Linked DNA regions of Homo sapiens. The protein of the gene in region 1 interacts with the protein of each later gene in a pairwise test. Each region holds a gene or a part of one and is shown in the gene's direction. Other genes may lie near its edges.

Region 1 (4,868 bases):
GAGTGCAGTGGTGTGATCTTGGCTCCCTGCAACCTCCGCCTCCTGAGTTCAAGCAATTCTCTTGCCTCAGCGTCTCAAGTACCTGGGACTACAGGCCTGCACCACCACGCCTGGCTAATTTTTTAATTTTTAGTAGAGATGGGGTTTCACTGTGTTGGCCAGGCTGGTCTCAAACTCCTGACCTCAAGTGATCCTCCTGCCTCGGCCTCCCAAAGTGCTGGGATTACAGGCGTGAGCCACCGCGCCTGGCCCCCTGAAGTGTAAACTATCCGCATCTGTGACAAAGCATTCAGTTTCTCCCCTCTTCCTTCAGAAAATAATCTCTAACATACAGCTAATTATGGACTTTCCTGGCACAGAAGGAATGATGCTATAACCTAACTAGGTGGACTGTCTGTGGATACTACTGGTAATTATGACACTAGTGATTTTGTAAGTGGACTGTTTATATGGTACTTACTAAATTCAAATATGGGCACGTAATGAAAGTGGGCATTAGCTGCACATACATTAAATGGAATTTAGTAATTTAAAAATATCGATTCATTTTTCTTGAAAAATTAAAAAGGGAGAAAATTCATCTATAATCTAAGTTTTTTTGTTAAATTTAACTGTGGAAAATTTTTGGAAACTGGTTTCCTTAATATGCTGTTCAGCCAAAAGTTTTGGAAGGTCTCCATCAAGAAAACAAAATTATTCATCAAAAAATGAAAACTGTGTGGAAGAAACTTTTGAAGATTTGCTTTTAAAGTATAAACAAATACAGTTGGAACTAGAATGCATCAATAAGGATGAAAAACTAGCATTGAGTAGCAAAGAAGAGAATGTGCAGGAAGATCCTAAAACATTGAACTTCGAGGACCAAACTAGCACTGATAATGTCAGTATTACAAAGGATTCAAGTAAAGAAGTAGCTCCTGAGGAGAAAACACAAGTCAAAACTTTTCAGGCATTTGAATTAAAACCACTCAGGCAAAAATTGACTTTACCAGGAGATAAGAACCGTTTGAAAAAAGTTAAAGATGGAGCAAAACCACTTTCCCTGAAATCCGACACTACTGATTCTAGTCAAGGTAATGGAATTAAATATTTCAGTTAGTAATGACTCTTCTTCCTCTAAAGTAGTAACTACTTGTTTTGGCAGTGTACTTCATTGAAATGATTGTAATTATCTGTAAATTCTTTTGTACTTTCTATGTAGACATTCATATCATTGAATAATTACTAATTTTGTTTACTTTTAGTCTTTATTTATTTATTTATTTTTTGCCTGACATTCTGGCCTCTATAATAGAATGTTATACATAAGTGATAATAGTGGACACCTTTGTTTCCTAATTTAAAGAAAATGGTTTTGACATTTACCATTAAATATGATGTTAATTTTTTTGTAGGTATCCCTTATCGGGTAAAGGAGGGTTTTACTCCTATTCCTGGTTTGAAATTTTCAGCGTGAATGGATGTTGAAGTTTACAAAATCTGTTTTCTTCATTATTGGGATGAGCATCTAATTTATTTTAATTTGTTAGTGTAATGAATTATATAATTTATTTCTAGTATTAAACCACCCTTGTATGCTTGCGTTTAATACAGTTTATGATATACCATTTTTAAATCATGGATTTGGCTTGTTTTTTCTTTTCCTCTTTATTAAGATATAATTTATATACAGTAAAATTTATCTTTTAACATTATAAATGAATAAGTGTGTAGTTCTTCAGGTTTTGACAAATGTAGACAGTGGGTAACCATCACCAGCTACCATTAAGATACAGAATTCTTTCATCAACCTCAAACAGTTTCTCCAAGTGTCTTTGTAGTTATCCCGTCCCTCAGCCCTTAGTTCACCTGGTAACCACTGATCTGTCCCTATAGTTTTGCCTTTTCCAGAATGTCACACTAATGGAATCATACAGTATATTGCCTTTCATTATAGCTTCTTTCATTGAGCATAATGTGTTTGAAATTCATTCATGTAATTGTATATGTCAGTAGTTCTGTGTATCCCATCATACTGTAGTTCATCCATTTCCCAATTATGTTTGGGTTTTTCCAACTTTCGGCTATTACAAATGAAGGTTTGCTAGTGTTTTGTTTAGAATTTTTTATGTGTTCAGAGCCTGTAATTTCCCCCCCCTCTTTTTCCTTGACAGTTTTTAGTGTAAGGTTATAATACTCAAATTAGTTGGGGCTGTTTTCATCTTTATTCTCTGTAATAGTTTAAGATTGGAAACATTCTGAGATACTTGGTAGATCTTGCTGATAAAAGTGTCTGGGCCTGGGTGGAGTTTTTTTCTGAGAAAGTTTTAATCTAACTTCGTGTTTTCTATTTCTGTTAAGACAGTTTATGTAAACTCTATATTTTTTGTAATGTGTCTATTTCCTGTAAGTTACAGAAGTTATAAAAATTGTTCTTAAGAATCCTTTACTTTTTTATCTGTAGTATTTATAAGTTGTACCTTTTTTTTCCCTGCTCTCTTCTTTAATTTACCCTGAAATAAGTACATAAGTTTTTAAACTCAGTTTTCAGCCTCTCTCCTATTAAGATCATTTTAGGCCATAAAGTTTGACTTTAGTTCTGTCTCAAGTTGGGTTATTTAACTTTTTTCATTCATTCTGAATATTTTCTAATTTTTATTTTTCATTGACTTGTAGGCTGCTTGGAAGTATGTTTCTTCTAAACATGTAGGTTGTCTAGCAGTATTTTTTATTGATATCTAAGTCAATCATACTGTCAGAAAATAAGATTGCTATGATAACCAATCTTTTGAAATACTTGGAGACTTCCTTTATTGTCCAGTATGTAATCAGTTTTTTGTAAGAGTTCTGTGTATGTTTGAAATGAATTTATAGATTACTTGAGCTTTTTGTGTTGTTCACTTTTTTTATTTTTTGATATGCTTGATCAGTTACTAAGAGGAGTTTGTTAAAATTTGCCAGTATGATGATGGATTTGTGATTTTTACTTTTTGCTTTAAATACTTTGAAGGTGGGTAATTGAGTCATTATGTAGTGACTTTATCTCTGATGTTTTTGCCTAAAAGACTATTTTGTCTTATATTAATAGCCACATCATCTTTCTCTTTATATAATTTCCCACTCTTTCAGTCTTTCTGTATCCTCATGTCTCGGATATTACTTGTACATAGTATAGAGCTGGTTTTAATTTATAATTCAGTATGACAATCTTTGTCCTTTAGCTTGAACGTATAGTCTACTCACATTTTTTATGATTATTGACATTTGGTTTTATTTCTTCTTCTTTTTTTTCTTTTTAGGCTCTTATTTTTCTTCACACAATTTTTTTTCATTTGCTAGTTTGGAAGTTGGATACTAAATTTCTGGTCTTATATTCCTACCAGTGTTTAAAGTTAATCAGGAACCTTACTCTTTCCCCGAAATACAAAGAATGATATTTGCTTAGCTTTGCCTATATATTTAGCACTTTCTTGGCTCACTCTTTGTATCATGTCTGGAATTATATATGTATAAATATATTCTCTGTGTGTGTGTGTTTTAGATAAGATCTCACTGTGTTGCCCAGGCTAGAGTGCAGGAGTATGATCATGACTCAGTGCAGCCTTGACCTCCTGGGCTCAGGTGATCCTCCCACCTCAGCCTTCTGAGTTGCTGGGACCACAGGCATGTACTACCATGCCCGGCTATGTTTTAAAAATTTCTGTAGAGACGGGGTCTCAGTATGTTGTCTAGGCTGGTCTCAAACTCCTGGGCTCAAATGATCCTCTTGCCTTAGCCTCCTAAAATGCTGGGATTACAGGTGTGAGCCACCATGCTCTGTGCTTAAATACATTCTTTAGACTTTTTTTTTAAAAATGTGTTTTTGCTGGGTGGAAAACGATTTCCGTTTACTCTTTTTAAAAGATATTTTCCCTGGGTTTAGAATTCTAGGTTGTTTAATTATATGCTTTTTGTTTGTTTGTTTTTGAGACAAAGTCTTTCCCTGTCATCCAGGCTGGAGTGCAGTGGCACTATCTTGGCTCATTGCAACCTCCGCCTCCTGGGTTCAAGTGATTCTCATGCCTCAGCTTCCTGAGTAGCTGGGACTATGGTACATGCCATTGCGCCCGGCTAATTTTTGTATTTAGTGGAGCTGGGGTTTCGCCATGTTGGCCAGTCTGGTCTCAAACTCCTGGCCTGAAGTGATCCGCCTGCCTTGGCCTCCCAAAGTGCTGGGATTACAGGCATGAGCCACCACACCCAGCCCCTAATTATATTCTTACTGACAATATTTTCTGGCTTCCATTGTTGATTTTCAAAACTCATCTATCAGTCTTAATGGTTTCCAATTTGAAGATAATCTTTTTTCTTTGGTTGTTTTAAAGATCCTTTTTGTCTTTGATATTCTGTAGTTGAACTGTGTGATGTGCTGATTGTAGATTTCTTTTTATGTATCCAGCTTGGAATTTGTTGTTTCTTGAATCTGGATTGGATCTTGCAGTGGTTCTGAAAAAATGATCATTATCTCTTAGAATATTATCCCATTCTCTCTCTTTTTTGGAACTCTGTATAGATGTATGTTATGTTAAGTCATCATACTTTATCTTTCATGTCTCTTCATTTCTCTAAGTTTCTGTCACTTTGTAATTGACAAATTCTGGAAAATTTCCTCTGATACATCTTTCGTTTTACTGATTCTCTCTTCTGCTGTATTCGATTTGCCTTAAGCCCACTTACTGAGTTTTACATTTCAATTACAGTTTTTGTTTTACTATTTCATTTTTGTTTTGTTTTCAAATCACTTTGATCATTCTTTCCACTTTTCTTCTCCCTGCTTATATTTTCAGCTTTATCTTTGTTTCTTTAAACAAATTAACCATAGGTCTGTTTTGTTTTATCTCCTATCCCTG
Region 2 (4,868 bases), on another chromosome or scaffold:
TTCTCGTGCTTATTTTGCTTCTAGACATATGTACAGGTTTACTCTGCCTGGAATGCTTTTTCTCCTCCACATGTCACCTCATTTTGACCTTATTCCTTACAAAGCTTTCCTTGTGTACTTGCCGAAGATCCCCACCCCCTTGACTGGTTCAAGAGCCTTCCCCTTCTGTTTTGCAATGTGCTCACCCCTAGCATAGCACTTAAACATAGATGTTTATTTGTTGATCTCCTCAACCACATTGTAAGTTCTTTGAGGGCAGGGAGAGCTGGTGAGAACTGTTTATGGAAAAAAATGTTGTGGACTCATGGATTAAAAGCAAAGGTGCCATTTTACAAAGAGGACTATAACGGCAAGTGGATTGGATATGTCTCATTGCCGGGCAGCCCATTATTCCAGAACACAGAGTAACTTTTTTCTGGGGTCCGTACTAAAGGCCATCATTCCATTCTTGCCTTTCTTCATTTTAATTTACTATTCAGGTCTACTCGTGAAGTGCTTAAATTAGAGTGGCCCTTGGGGTACTCCAGCAGTTTAGACATGTTGCAAGAAAAGATATTCGTAAATAATTTGCTCCGAAGTCAATCTAACTAAATCTGTTACATAGGATTTTAAAGCTATTTTGGTGATATTTGACCCAGAGGGAAGGGTGTAGCATTCATTCCATCACATGGTATTTTGGGAAATAATACAGTTAAAGGCTTTTGTAACAAATAAAGCTTGTTGGAGAAAAACCCAACATGCAGAAATGAATTGCCAGTTATTAATTTGCACAATTGTTTCTAGGTTTCCCTATAACTTGTGACAAGAAGTAGTTGTTTTTTTTTTCCCTCTTAATATATATATATATGGGCTAGGAGTACAGACATTTAGCATATGCCTTTTAAAAATCTGTTCTTATGTTAAGTAGTGTCCATAGAGAGAAGTTCAAACTTTCCTTGTGATTCAGCCTTTTAAAATTTTCAGAGTACATTATTGAAATGTGTATGGGCTTGATAAAACTTAATGCTTGTCAATGTACCTATTTTTTTGTCTCACAGATTATTCAGTGCATTTTTATCCTGATGTTTTTGTTTGTATTTTGTGTGTACTCTATTTACTTGGTTAGCAGAAATGATTTACTTTTTACTTTTGTACCCTTGGTATTTCATTTTGATTTTTTTTTTAAGAATTTGATCGGCCAGGCGCGATGGCTCATGCCTGTAGTCCCGACACTTTGGGAGGCCAAGGCAGGCAGATCGCCTGAGCCCAGGAATTCGAGACCAGCCTGGGCAATGTGGCGAAACCCCGTCTCTACAGAAAGTACAAAAATTTAGCTGGGTATGATGGCATGCACGTGTTGTCCCAGCTATCCAGGAGGCTGAGGTGGGAGGAACACCTAGGGCCTGGGGAGGTCGAGGCTACAGCGAGCCATTATCATGCCACTGCACTCCAGCCTGGATAACAGAATAAAAAGACCCTGTCTCAAAAAAAAAAAAAAAAAAAGAGGCGGAGGCGGGCGGATCACGAGGTCAGGAGATCGAGACCATCCCAGCTAAAACAGTGAAACCCTGTCTCTACTAAAAAAACAAAACATTAGCCGGGCGTAGTGGCGGGTGCCTGTAGTCCCAGCTACTTGGGAGGCTGAGGCAGGAGAATGGCGTGAACCCGGGAGGTGGAGCTTGCAGTGAGCCGAGATCCCGCCACTGCACTCCAGCCTGGGCGACAGAGCGAGACTCCGTCTCAAAAAAAAAAAAAAAAAAACAAAAAAGAAAAAAAAAAAAGAAAAAATTTTGATCAGGATAAAGCCTTTCATAAATGAATTAGAGCATCTTATACTACTCATTTTGTTTATACATCTCATGGTAAAGCTTGTATAATTTTGAATTATACATTTTGTGATTTTGCTGATACTGAATACTAGTCTTTATAATAATCTGATACGTTTAAAAGGTTGCTATTGATCTATTCGTATTCACAGTAGATGTGTAAAGTAGTATATCAACTACTTTTGTTTTCATATATTGATTTATATTTACAGCAAACATTTGTATACCTGCTGTTCACCAGATCCTGTGCTAGGGAATTAGTCGTTATTTGCATTTTTCAGATTAATCTATCATTACTTTTATAGGATCATTGTTGCAATTTCTTTTTCAGGGTATGGTACCATTTGTTTTTGTGGGAACAAAGGACAGCATCGCTAATGCCACTGTTCTTTTGGATTATCACCTGAACTATTTAAAGGTGAGAACAGAAAGAACTTTAACTTCTAATCCTTTTGTACTAAAATATACAAACTTTATAGTAGATCTTTCAGCAGTTAGGACTCATTCTAGCCTGTGCAAAACACTGTATGACTTGTCAAAGGTAATAGAGAAAATACGTTGTTTGGCTTATAATTTTTTTAAAAATGGAAGTCTTTATAAATTTAAGTACCAATATACCAGTTTTCAATAAAATTTTATACTTCCCTTTATTCTTCTCTTAAACCCTTACACTCAGTTTAGGCAATCCTGTACATAGCCTGTTAATCCATTTGATCCTTTCTAGCATTTTGGTTTTTTCCAGACAAAAATCTGTGTCTATAACTCTTGCCTTTATTGTTCCTTTTATGTCATTTATCAAGGAAATCTAAGCATTTCATGAAGTTCTTTGTTTAAATGTTTACCCTATTTTTCTCTTTACTGTTATTCAAAATACAAACTATTTGTGTCTTCTCATAAATGTTCAGTTTAGTTAGTGTGATGCGGTTATGCCTCCTTAAAATTTCAAACTGGAAGATAGGAACGAGGAGGCTACAAGGTGTAGTGGAGCAAGCACTGGATGGGCAATGCAGCAATTTACTTATAAGACTTCAGCAAATGAACTAGCTGTGTGACTTTAGGCAAGTCACTTCCCTACACTAGATGCTTCTTGAAATTCCTTTTGGCCAAAATGTTCTATACTTTAATGAAATGGAAACTGATCTACTTCATTTTCATAATGTTTTATTTGTATCCATACATATCAAAATTATAATGTAGCTGGTATTAAATGTTTTTAAAAAGCATTTCAACTCTATTTATGGCATTAAGAATTTTTTTGCTGATTTCTTGAAAGAAATAAAAAGTACATGATTTCTGCTTGTGTGTAAATAAGAATGAAAGGAAGAAAAAGTGTAATACTGGGCATGCCATTCATTCTTATGGTGGCCAGTTAATTAAAAGTGGAAAGGTTTCATCCAGCAAGGTTTACATGGGTAGGATACCTCTTTGATTTTTTTTTAAGTATGTTTATGTGTAATCTCTCTGTGTGTGTGTCTCTCTCGTAATTAGCTTAAATCATCATGAAGGCCTGGAGAGTTAGGATTGCATTGTATCAAATCCCTTGTTCTTTTGACTAATGTTCTTTCTTAGATCCTTTGATTTATTCTCAAGAATATCTTCTTTGGTTATCAGCAGCTGCCCTGTTGCCATTCTTTCCATCACCAGAACTTCCCTCGTTTGGGCCTGGCATCTCTCACCAAAAGGTGACTGCTTTGCCCCAGTGGGATAACCTGGACTACTCTTCTGTTTTGCAAGATATTCCTATTCCATGAGCTATTACTATACCTTTGGAGGAAGTCACTCACTCAGCTGCAGTCTCTCCTTTGCTCAAATTCTATGTAAAACAGATTCTGGTGTAACTATGTAAATTGCTAATGATGGCAGAGCACAGATGAAACGGACCAAATCCTTACCTGACCTTTCTTTTCCAGAAGCTGCCACAACCAAGATTTTAGAAACTTAGCTTTACAGGAGCTTCTCCAATGACTGTTCATGTAGACAGTCTCTATGATAACCTCTGCTTCACTGAGACGCCTACTACTACTATAGTTATGAATCTGATTCCCCGTAGCCAGTAAATGAGATGTTTATGAGTGGATTGGAAGGACAGTGGTTAGAAATGAGGTTTCATCTGGTTTTAACAGAACCCAACATACTGGAAGTGCTTTTTGTAAGGGTCTGTCATTGGACCCCAGGTGTATATTTCTATCAACTAAATGTATACTGTTTCTCGTACTTGTTGTAGCAGAGTTGTAGTCTTTAGGAAGTTTTCAAGGCATGATGTAAGACCTAGCTGTCTGGTCAGCTATTAAATAGTTTTGTTTTCCCCTCATGAGGAATAGTCAGCATTTTCAGTTGATGAAAAAATCATTGTTCCTTAACCATAGTATATGTTCTTTTAAAACAAAAGATGGCCCAAACTCAATGCTTTGTAAATTAAGATATTAACTGGCAAATCTATTTTAATCAAGATTATTTACAATGTGTGATTTTTAAGGTTAGCTGGTTATACCTTGAATGTCATTTATCTATATTCATACATTTTAGCATGTTTTATTTAATATCCTATCATGAAGAAGTCCCCAAAATAGCATATCTGTGCCTTAGCAGTAGAATAATTGGATAATAGTGCCAAATTAGACAACTTTAAATTTTATTCAGTATAATTTTACTGCTGAGTGTTTTTGTTATATCTCTAATTCTTGACATCAATAATCTGTTATCTGTAGTAATTTTCTTTTTAAGGAGATCATTCAATTTCCTGATAATTCTGTGTAACAGTGTTTACTGTAAATTTAGAACTGAAATTGAAATATTCCAGTATATTTTTATCTGATGAAAAGGAGAAAGGTTTTATTAAGTAAAATGTCAAATTATTTTTACTGTTATCTTGTATATTTTAAATAGGAAGTAGACCAGTTGCGTTTGGAGAGATTACAAATTGATGAGCAGTTGCGACAGATTGGAGCTAGTTCTAGACCACCACCAAATCGTACAGATAAGGAAAAAAGCTATGTGACTGATGATGGTCAAGGAATGGGTCGAGGTAGTAGACCTTACAGAAATAGGGGGCACGGCAGACGC

Evidence for each region. The genes of interacting proteins can lie anywhere in the genome.
Region 2: the proteins of ZFC3H1 (region 1) and FMR1 interact in a two-hybrid assay, tested with the Homo sapiens proteins (one large-scale study listed by IntAct).

Annotation. Positions count from the first base shown.
Region 1 is NC_000012.12:71,653,090-71,657,957, reverse strand, and holds part of ZFC3H1 (zinc finger C3H1 domain-containing protein), read left to right. Parts: intron 1-656; coding exon 657-1,073; intron 1,074-4,868. UniProt on the Homo sapiens protein: Subunit of the trimeric poly(A) tail exosome targeting (PAXT) complex, a complex that directs a subset of long and polyadenylated poly(A) RNAs for exosomal degradation. The RNA exosome is fundamental for the degradation of RNA in eukaryotic nuclei.
Region 2 is NC_000023.11:147,938,440-147,943,307, forward strand, and holds part of FMR1 (fragile X messenger ribonucleoprotein 1), read left to right. Parts: intron 1-2,136; coding exon 2,137-2,223; intron 2,224-4,691; coding exon 4,692-4,868.